Regions from separate parts of the Homo sapiens genome. Here region 2 is linked to region 1. The links come from fine-mapping of genetic effects on gene expression. Tissue or cell type: whole blood. Region 1 holds a variant in brackets; the other region holds the start of a gene. All regions are shown on one strand. Distances are between the middles of the regions.

What was found. PIP is the estimated chance that this variant, and not a neighbour inherited with it, causes the effect.
Region 2: STIMATE starts here. The variant in region 1 is fine-mapped to the expression of STIMATE in whole blood (TOPMed, PIP 0.92).

Annotation. Positions count from the first base shown.
Region 1 is chr3:52,948,679-52,953,910 of GRCh38, forward strand. All of the region lies in intron 3 of SFMBT1 (Scm like with four mbt domains 1), which reads right to left. Among named protein-coding and RNA genes, the nearest start is that of STIMATE-MUSTN1, 54 kb to the left of the region's middle. The variant A/G (reference allele first, on the strand shown) is at 2,597.
Region 2 is chr3:52,894,778-52,899,913 of GRCh38, forward strand. STIMATE (STIM activating enhancer) reads right to left here and starts at 2,771. Exons shown (of 8, transcript NM_198563.5): 1 at 2,514-2,771. The coding sequence starts at 2,673. STIMATE-MUSTN1 (STIMATE-MUSTN1 readthrough) reads right to left here and starts at 2,771. Exons shown (of 10, transcript NM_001198974.3): 1 at 2,514-2,771. The coding sequence starts at 2,673. RefSeq lists a silencer at 2,324-3,033.

The DNA of each region.
Region 1 (5,232 bases):
TCTCATTCTGCCGCCCAGGCTGATGTACAGCGGCACAATCTCGGGTCACTGCAACCTCTGTCTCCTGGGCTCAAAGGATCCCCCCACCCCAGCCTCTGATGTAGCTAGGATTACAGGTGTGCTCCACCATGCCTGGCTAATTTTTAATTTTTTTTTTTTTTTTTTTTTGTAGAAAAGGTCTCACTATATTGCCCAGGCTGGTCTCGCATTCCTGGGCTCAAGCAATTCTCCCACCTTGGCTCCCAAAGTGCTGGGATTACAGGTGTGAGCCACTGCACCCAGCATCCTTGCAATTTTTTTTACATTTAATCCTAGACATTTTATGTTTCTGATGTTACTGCATTTTCATTTAGTTCCAAATATTTCAAAGTTTCCCGAGACCGCTTCTTTTATCCGTGTTATTCACAAGTGTGTTGTTTAATCTCTAAGTAACTAGGGACTTTCCAGCTATCTTTCTGTTATTGATTTCTAGTTTAATTTCACTGTGGTTTGAGAGCACACTGTATGATTTATATTATTTTAAATTTGTTAAGGTGTGCTTTATGGGCCTGGGTGTGGTCTATCTTTGTGAATGTTCCATGTGAGCTTGAGAAGAATGTATCTTCTGCTGTTGTTGAAGTAGTCTATAGATGTCCATTATATCCAGTTGATTGATGGTATTGCAGAGCTCAACAATGTCCTTACTAATTTTCTGCCTGCTGGATCTGTCCATTTTCGATAGGAGGGCGTTGAATTTCCCGACTAATAATATTGAATCCATTTGTTTCTCCATGCAGTTCTACCAGGTTTTGACTTGCGTATTTTTACATTCTGTTGTTAGATGCATACATTTTAAGGACTGTTACGTCTTCTTGAAGAACTGACCCCTTTATTATTATGTAATGTCCTTCTTTTTTTTTTTTTTTTTTTTTTTTTTTGAGACCGAGTTTCACTCTTGTTGCCCAAGCTGGAGTGCAGTGGCATGATCTCGGCTCACCGCAACCTCCGCCTCCTAGATTCAAGCGATTCTCCTGCCTGAGCCTTCCTGAGTAGCTGGGATTACAGGCATGCACCACCACGCCTGGCTAATTTTGTATTTTTAGTAGAAACAGGGTTTCTCCATGTTGGTCAGACTGGTCTTGAACTCCCGACCTCAAATGATGCACTCATCTCGGCCTCCCAAAGTGCTGGGATTACAGGCGTAATGTCCTAACATTCCTTGCTTTGAAGTCAGCTCTGTCTGACATTAATACAGCTAGGTCTTTTTTTTGTTAGTGTTAGCATGGTATATCTTTCTCCATCCATTTACTTTTAACCTATATGTCTCTTTATATTTAAAGTGCTTTTATTATAGACAACATATAGTTGGGTCATATTTTTTGATCCACTCTGATAATCTCCATCTTTTTAACAGTGCATTTAGACCACTGACATTCAAAGTGATTACTGATATAGTTGGATTAATATCTACCATATATGTTAGTGTTTTCTATTTGTTGCCTTCTTCTTTGTTTCCATTTTGTCTTTCACTCTTTATCTGCCTTCTGTGGTTTTAAACAGGCATTTTATATTATTCCACTTTGCCTTCTTAGCATATTATATTTCTTTTAACTGTTTTTAGTAGTTGCCCTAGAGTTTACAATATACATTTAAACTAATCCAAATCCAATTTGTGATTTTAAAAAACCCTTATAATAACAATTCTAATTCTGCCATTTCTTCCCCTGTATCATTGCTACCATTTATATATGTAAGCATGCCTTAGCATATATTTATACATAAGCATACATAATCAAATAAATTGTTGCTGTCATTACTTTTTTTGTTTGTGTTTTGAGATGGAGTCTCGCTCTGTTGCCCAGGCTGGAGTGCAATGGCGCAATCTCAGCTCACTGCAACCTCCGCCTCCCAGATTCAAGCAATTCTCCCGTCTCAGCCTCCCAAGCAGCTGGAATTACAGGCACCCACCATCATGCCTGTCTAATTTTTGTATTTTTGTAGAGACAAGGTTTCACCATGTCGGCCAGGCTGGTCTTGAACTCCTGACCTCAGGTGATCCACCCGCCATGGCCTCCCAAAGTGCTGGGATTACAGGCGTGAGCCACCGTGCCCGGCTGCTGTCATTATTTTGAATAAACTGTTATATGTTCCCTCAATAAAGAATAAGAAATATTAGGCCAGGCATGGTGGCTCATGGCATAATCCCAGCATTTTGGGAGGCCAAGGCAGGAGGTTCCCTTGAGGCAAGGAGTTCAAAACCAGCCTGGGCAACATAGCAAGACCCATCTCTACCAAAATATATATATATTTTTTTAAGTTAGTCAAGCATGGTGGTGGGTGTCTGTAGTCTCAGCTACTCTGGAGGCTGAGGCAGGAGGACTGCTTGAGCCTGAAGCTGCAGTGAGCTAGGATCACACCACTGCACTCCAGTCTGGGCAACAGAGCAAGACTCTTATCTTAAAAAAAAAAAAAAAAGAAAAATCCAAGGTTTTCTTTTACATTTTAAAATTCCTTCTCCAAAAAAAAAAAAAAAAACACACATTCCTTCTCTAACACTCTTTTTTCCTTCCTCAGAAACCATGCAAGCAAGGATAGAGAGGACTGAAATAGTTAAGGC[A/G]TTTAAAGCAAAAAGCCACTAATTTAGAGCTGTGTATCAAGCAAAATTATCCTTAAAAAGTACTAAAGATTTTCTCAGGCAAACAAAAATTAAGGGATTCTGTCACCAGTAGACCTGTCTTGCAAGAAATATTAAAAGAAATTCTTTTTTTTTTTTTTTGAGATGGCATTTTGCTCTTGTTGCCCAGGCTGGAGTGCAGTGGCATGATCTTGGCTCACTGCAACCTCCGCCTCTTGGGTTCAAGTGATTCTCCTGCCTCAGCCTCCTGAGTAGCTGGGATTACAGGTGCTTGCTACGACTGGCTAATTTTTGTATTTTTAGTAGAGAAGGGGTTTCATCATGTTGGCCAGGCTGGTCTCGAACTTCTGACCTCAGGTGATCTGGGCCGAATTAAATGAATAGGTTGGGCTATTTAACTGCAGCAGGAACATGCCCTTAAAGACACAGATTGCTCATGCTTTAGTTTGTGTCTAAAGAATGCCTTTAAGCGGTTTTCTGCCCTGGGCGGGCCAGGTGTTCCTTGCCCTCATTCCCATAAACCCACAACCTTCCAGCTTGGGCGTTAGGGCCATTATAGACATGTTACAGTGCTGCAGAGATTTTATTTATGGCCAGTTTTGGGGCCAGTTTATGGCCAGACTTTGAGGGGCTTGCTCCCAACAATGCAATATGAAATAAAATCCTTATCTGAAATATGTAATTCTCACCACTTTAAGAGAGATATAAATGAACAAAGAATAATCAAAAAGGGCAGCTAACATGACTGAGTTTTTACACACGGAAAACTAAAAATAGTGGGACTCGCTGTGCATGGTGGCTCACGCCTGTAATCCCAGCACTTTGGGAGGCTGAGGCGGGCGGATCACGAGGTCAGGAGATCGAGACCATCCTGGCTAACACGGTGAAACCCCATCTCTACTAAAAATACAAAAAATTGGCCGGGTGTGATGGCGGGCGCCTGCAGTCCCAGCTACTCGGGAGGCTGAGGCAGGAGAATGGCAGGACTCTTTAGCATATAAAGACAACAGCTAAAAGAATATGGTTTATATTCACAGACAACACTGACTGTGCATCAGTGTCTTCACAAATCCTAGAACAAAAGAAGTATGCCCTACTGAACATTGCTATGGGCTAAACTGTTCACCCCAAAATTTGTATGTTCAAACCCTAAGCTCCAGTATGACTGTTTGGATATAGGCCCTTTATGAAGGTTGTCTTAGTCCATCTGGGGTGCTACACCAAAATATCTTAGGCTGGAAAATGTATAAACAACAGAAATTTACTGCTCACAATTCTGGAGGCTGGAAAGTCCAAGATGAAGGCCCCAGGGGATTCAGAATCTGGTGAGGGTTCACTTTCTGCTTCAAAGATGGTGCCTTCTTGCTGTCTTCACATGGTGGAAGTTGAGCAAACAAGCTCTCTCAAGCCTCCTTTATAATGGTGCTAATCCCATTCATGAGAAAAAACCTTTATGGCCGAATCACCTCTCCAAGGCCCCACCTCTTCATACCAACGCAATGGGGATTAGGTTTCAACATATAAATTTTGGGAGGGCACAAACATTTAGAGGTCATAAGGATGGAGCCCTGATCTAACAGAATTGGTTCTTCTTCCTTTAAGAAGAGACACCACAGAACTCTTACTGTTTCTACCATGTGAAGACACAGCAAGGTGGCAACTATCTGCAAGCCAGAAAGAGGGCCCTCACCAGAAAGCAGCTACACACCTAGGCTTTCAGTCTCCATAACTGTGAGAAGATAAATGTCAGTTGTTTAAGCCACCTAGTCTATGATATTTTGTTATGGCAGCCCAAGCAGACTATGACAAATATGAAATAAGTAGTTTTAGAATTAATTATTCTGTGTGTTTTAAGAGGGAGTTTGAGTAAACAGGTTAAAAACTAGGTCTAGGATGGGCACAGTAGCTCACGCCTGTAATCCCAGCACTCTGGGAGGCCAAGGCAGGAAGATTGTTTAAGCCCAGGAGTTTAAGACTGGCCGACATGGTGAAACACCATCTCTACTAAAAATTAGCTGGGTGTGGTGGTGTACACCTGTAGTCCCAGTTACTTAAGAGGCTGAGGTGGGAGGGTCACCTGAGCCCAGGGGGTTGAGGCTGCAGTGAGCTATGATGGGCGATGGAGTGAGACACTGACCCCCTACCCCCCTCACCAAAAAAAAAACCTAGGTCTAGATATAAATTATAAACAAAATTTGGGGTACTTTCTTACATTCTAAAGTCATTACACAGGGCAAATATGTTGTCATTGACAAGGCATTAAACTGGGTTGTTAGGGCATAAAACCAGGCTGCACAGGCCACTAATATGACATGTAAATATGCATGTCATACTTATGTTCTGCTCAGTAAGAGTGACAGCAAATAATGCTATTGAAATTACTTTCAATGAATGCAACAAAGTAAATGTAACAAAGTACAATAATTTTTTTCAATTTATGACAAGGTTTTTTGACAAAAGTAAAGGAATATTCATAAATGGTCAAAAAGATAAGTCATGCATTGAGTAGCAGAAAATACACAAAACCAAAAAGGATTTTAGAATATGGCAAGTGTGACCAGGCACAGTGGCTCATGCCTGTAATCCCAGCACTTTGGGAGGCTGAGGTGGGAGGATCA
Region 2 (5,136 bases), 54 kb before region 1:
CGTTCCAGAAGACAGGCAGTGAGCCCATTGCCTCGAGGGCCACGGGTACTCAGAAGGGAAAAGACTGTGATCTCAAAAACAGCCCCTCAAAGGACAACGGCTGTTTAAACTGCTCAGAACAGACTGGTTGGTATTTAAAATGTTTGAAGATAACAGAACTGAGGAAGGATGGAGTGGCCTCACCTTAACACACACTAAGACTTCCCTCCCTCAGGGCTGCGAGGGGGACCCTCGTCAGGGGAGCCTGGCCTTCAACAGATGCCCCTCCTGGCAGCTCCGCCAGACTGAGAAGGACGGAGGACTAATAGCCCAGGACAAAGCCAAATGGCTCGCAGATGTACTTCCTTAAGGCTACCTTGATCTCGTTCCTCTTCCACCTTAGAGATTTCTTCCTCTTCCCAGTAGTTCAAGAAGGAAAAGCCTCGCAGTTCTATTTCAACAGGACCAAGAAATCTGAGAGATAAGAAGGGCCCCACCCTGACTGCATCCCAGTCAGTGGGCTTCTTCTTGTCCAGCTCCCAGAGTACCATTGCCCTGGCCTGCTCTGTCTGCTTCTAGGTAGGGGGAGGAGGCTCTTGCTCTCACCTCCATTTCTGTGTCAGGGCAGACATAGCTCTAGCCTTTCCAGCTCTTCTCCCCATCACTCCTACCCACATCACCCCAGGACCCACCAGCCATTTCCACAAGCTCCGTCCACGTCAAGCCTCACAGTGAACAAGAGACTGCTTTCTAGTTCAATCTCTGCACACAGAAAGTACCAACCACAGTGGGATTTGCACATGTGCTCACGCTGAAGATTAAGTAAAGAAGTGAATATGTCCCTGAAGACTCCACTCAGAACACATTCAACCCGATACACTTCTCAGCTGTGAGCAACTCTGCCCTGTCATCATCACATTTCCTTCTCTGAATCACAAGTGTCAAACCCTAGGGGACAAGCCGGGCCATCAGCATCAATCAAACCTATGGAAACAGCCAGAGCTAGGCTAAGAAACCTCAGGTTAGGGAGCAAAAGAAAAATTTAACCTACACTTCCTTCAGAGAGAAAGGAAGGCTGTCTGGAGGACAGAGAAGTAGGAGGGGTATGAAGATCCACTCACCATGTCTTGAAAACACACACGTACAGTACATGCGCCCAAGTCAGCAGCGGATTTTGGCTAAGTTGTCACAAATTATTACTGTGGGAACAAGTGGGTATTTGTTTAGCAGAGAAAAAGCAAGGCAAGTTGGGACTAAAAAGGAAAGAAAAAGTGGCAAACATAGACAGTTGGGCACTTATAAGACTTATCAAGGACAGGCCACCAGAAGAACGCGGTATCCATGATCAGAGCCTCTTCAGGGTTACTTAAAGCCTGAGAGAATTCACTCAAAGAAACCCCAAGTTATAAACAAGCAAGGTGGCCACTCCAGCAACTGGACCCCACAAGACAAAGGCACACAGCTGCAAGATCCCTCCTGAGTACCCCAAAGCATACTTTCTGCAGGAACTCTCCACTCTGTCCACACAAGCACAGTGGGGAAGTTTTGAGAACAAGTCATTTTTGGAATTAATGACTCTGCACAGATAGTTATAACCTTTCCTTCCCCCTAAAACGCAGTCACAAGGGCACTCCTAGGCTTACATGTCGAGCAAAACTTCTTGTTACTTTAATAAGGGAAGGATGCACACGATGAAAAACAGAAGCCCCCCCCCACCCCCCATCAGCACACATGAGAACAGGGTGGGGGCTTCCTTCTCTATTCAGCCACTAAGGTGCCCAAGTTTAATGGAAAAGGAAACTTAAAATATAAAGAATAAAAGTGGAAAGGGAACAGCCAGGGGAAGCTATAGATGCGGCTTATTAGGAAAGCTTGGGACAGAGATGGAACAGGTGGGCCTGTTCCGGAAGAAACGAGAGGAAGGGGATCTGGGGAAGAAGGCAGACTGGGTGGGTCCTACCCTGACAAAAGGGAAACTAAAGCTGAGGAAGAAGGGCCACGGAGAGGGAGGCGGGTACTGGGAAACGGAAGGCATGGCCCTAACACTCCAGGTGTTGAGAGGGATGCAAAGTAGCAGGATTTAAATGTGAACGGAGAAGGCAGATCCTTGAAGAGTGAAGGGGCAGAAAAGAGCTCAGCATCGCACTGGGGATTGAGGGATGTGGGTTCTAAGCACGAAGAGCCCCTGAGAAGGGGCGGACAAGGGGATGTCACCCTTGGGGGTCATGATTCCAGGCTGGGAAGTGGGGTAACAATTCGAGATGGTAAGGTGGGAGGTAGGCGAGTTTTAGACTGGCGTCTCAAAAGACAGACGTTTAAGGTGGAAAGGGGAAGGGTCACTCCTGTCTGGAGGCCACAGCGAGTAGGTGAGGGGCTCGGGCTACCCCTAGTGCAGGAATACCCAGCCTGGGTTTGCGGGGGAGGAGCAATTCGGGTCCCAAGGCCTGAACTCTCCGCGCAGGAGGGGCCCCCAGGGGGGCCGGGCCGCGGCTGCCGCGCAGGGCCTCCGGAGGGTCGGGGGGTCCCAGACTCACGCATTAACGTGCTGAAGGCCACGACGCCGAGCAGCCCCTGCAGGAAGATGCCGAAGCTGTGCATGAGCGCGCCGCTCTCGCAGCGGCCCGCCCCGGACGCGACTGTGGAGGGCGGCCCGCCTGGCAGTCCCCGGCTCGCGTTCCCGGCGGGGCCCTGCATGACAGGCCTCGCGGGAGGGGCGCGAGGGCCCAGGGCCCGCCCGGCCTCGCTGCCTGCCGGCGCAGCGCCGCCAAACCCGCAGCCGGGATCCCAAGCCTGAGCCGGTACCTCCGCCCGGCCGCCGACTCCGCGCCGCGCGTAACCCGACGTCTGAGATCGCAGTGCCTGATTGGCGCAGCCAAGGTTGGGGCGGGCCTCGGCCGCGGCAGCTCTCCCCACCCGCCCCCGAGGGGCGGGGCTCCGGCCGGGCCACGGGGCGGGGTCGCGGGTCCCGCTCCCCTCTCCAACCCCGCCACGCCCGCAGGTAGACAGGCCAGGTGAGCCGGCCACCGCAGACCGGAATGAGAGCCTGGGAATCACGAGCTCCAGGTCCGGAGGTAGGAGCTGGGACGGCCTGTGGTCAAATTATTTTTCCCTCTAAGGAAAATCCCTATATCCTGGAGAAATTATCATCATTCCTGAATTCCACCCTCAGAGATCGTGATTCAGTAGTTCTGGGGTGGGTCCCAATAGTTTGCAGCCTGGATTATTCTGAAGCAAGTGAATAAGGAAAACAATCTGAGACTGAGTACAGGAGTCTTCCCTCCAACCCAGACATTTGAGTCTTTTTCCTACTTCCCTAGCTAAAGGCTTATCAAGGCCCCAAGTCTATTTTCTTTTTTCATAGACATAATTTAAATGGTCACCTGAATCCAATCACTTTCATTTGGAAATATACCAGGTTTCACACTGAAAACCTGACGTGCACATGTCCCACCTTATTCACTTGGGGAGCACAACTACCTTTAGAGTGTAAAAGACAAATGGTTGGTATTTTCCAGGCTCCAACATCCCCCTGCACACACACACTCCCATCTAACCCTTTCCAACTTCTCAGAACCTGTGCTCTGCCTTTAACAAGACCCTGAGTCCCCATTCTCTCACCCATTCTCCCAGCCCAATCTGGGCTCTCTCTGGATACCTTCTTGTTGGTGCTCTAGAGCCGCTGACCTTCCTGCTGCAGAATGTCAGTGAACACATGGTGTAAGTCCAGTTGACACTCACCCATTCTCCCAGCCCAATCTGGGCTCTCTCTGGATACCTTCTTGTTGGTGCTCTAGAGCCGCTGACCTTCCTGCTGCAGAATGTCAGTGAACACATGGTGTAAGTCCAGTTGACACTCACCCATTCTCCCAGCCCAATCTGGGCTCTCTCTGGATACCTTCTTGTTGGTGCTCTAGAGCCGCTGACCTTCCTGCTGCAGAATGTCAGTGAACATATGGTGTAAGTCCAGTTGATACTGAGCTACGTGTTTTCAACGGTAAATATCATCTCTAGGAAAAAGTTTCCTATTAAATAGCCCCCCAAATTCCAATTACCTAAGAGGGTTATATGCTAGCTAAAAGCTTTCTTGGTGAACAGGAATATTAACCTGATTAGAGAATAAAAATGCAATTCTCCAGCCTTCTCTTACATTTTCACACCTCTGTGCCTTTATGTAGCATTCTAGCTGCATGGATGCCATTCCCTTTTCCCTGCTCCATGAACTGCTCCTCATGTGTCAAAGCCTTTCTGACCTCCCTCTCCCTCTTGCTCCCACATTACCTAGTGTGTACTGTTCCACCAAAACTTTTCAGACTGCTAAATTTGACAGCTGTACACATGTCTCTCTCCCACAGCTAAGTGTGAGCCTCCTGAGGGCAGGAATTATTTTTATTTACCCTTCAATTCAAATTCAGTATGGTGCCTGGTACAGAGAACATGCGACAAAATGCTTAATTTAAATGGAATTTTAATTTATAAAATTTTAAACTCTCCACAAGTACTGGCCGTGGGCAAATACAGAAAATCAGATTAAAAAAATAAATGGATAAGGGAAAATTAAAATTGCATGACTGTCTTTTAGTCTAAGAGGGATCTTATGAGGATGCTCAACAGTTAACAGTACATGTTTAGAGAGAACCAAACAAGAGGCTACGTCTTAAAGCAGAATAGATTGTGGTTGGGCATAAGGAGACTATTGATTGCTTGAAGACACAGACAGCTCAAGGAAAATTGGACATAGAGCTGAAAAGTGATGTTTTTGACAAAGAATTGTTCTGCACATCCAGCTGTGGAGGAATCCTTAAGGCTCACAGAGGAACAAACAAGAAGCAGTCTTCAGAGATCAGGGGCGGAATCCCCAATGTCAGGAGCAAGGTTGCTGTGGGGAAATTCTACTCTTCCTATCTTTCCTGAACTGGAATTAAAAAGCACCTAAATCCAGAAGGTAAAGGATGAGACAGCAAGAGAGGGGGAAGAATTCCGGAGTTTTATTAAAGTAGGAAGGAACTTCTCATCTATTTGGAAATGATTCTCTGAGGTCCCGCTGGAAAGAGTTTTAAAAAATTTACTCTGGCCAAAATGCCTTCCTTGTTGTCAAATCAGCACAAAGTTAAGGTTAAACATAGCTTAAGACCTGTTCTCTTTAGTTTTCTCACAACC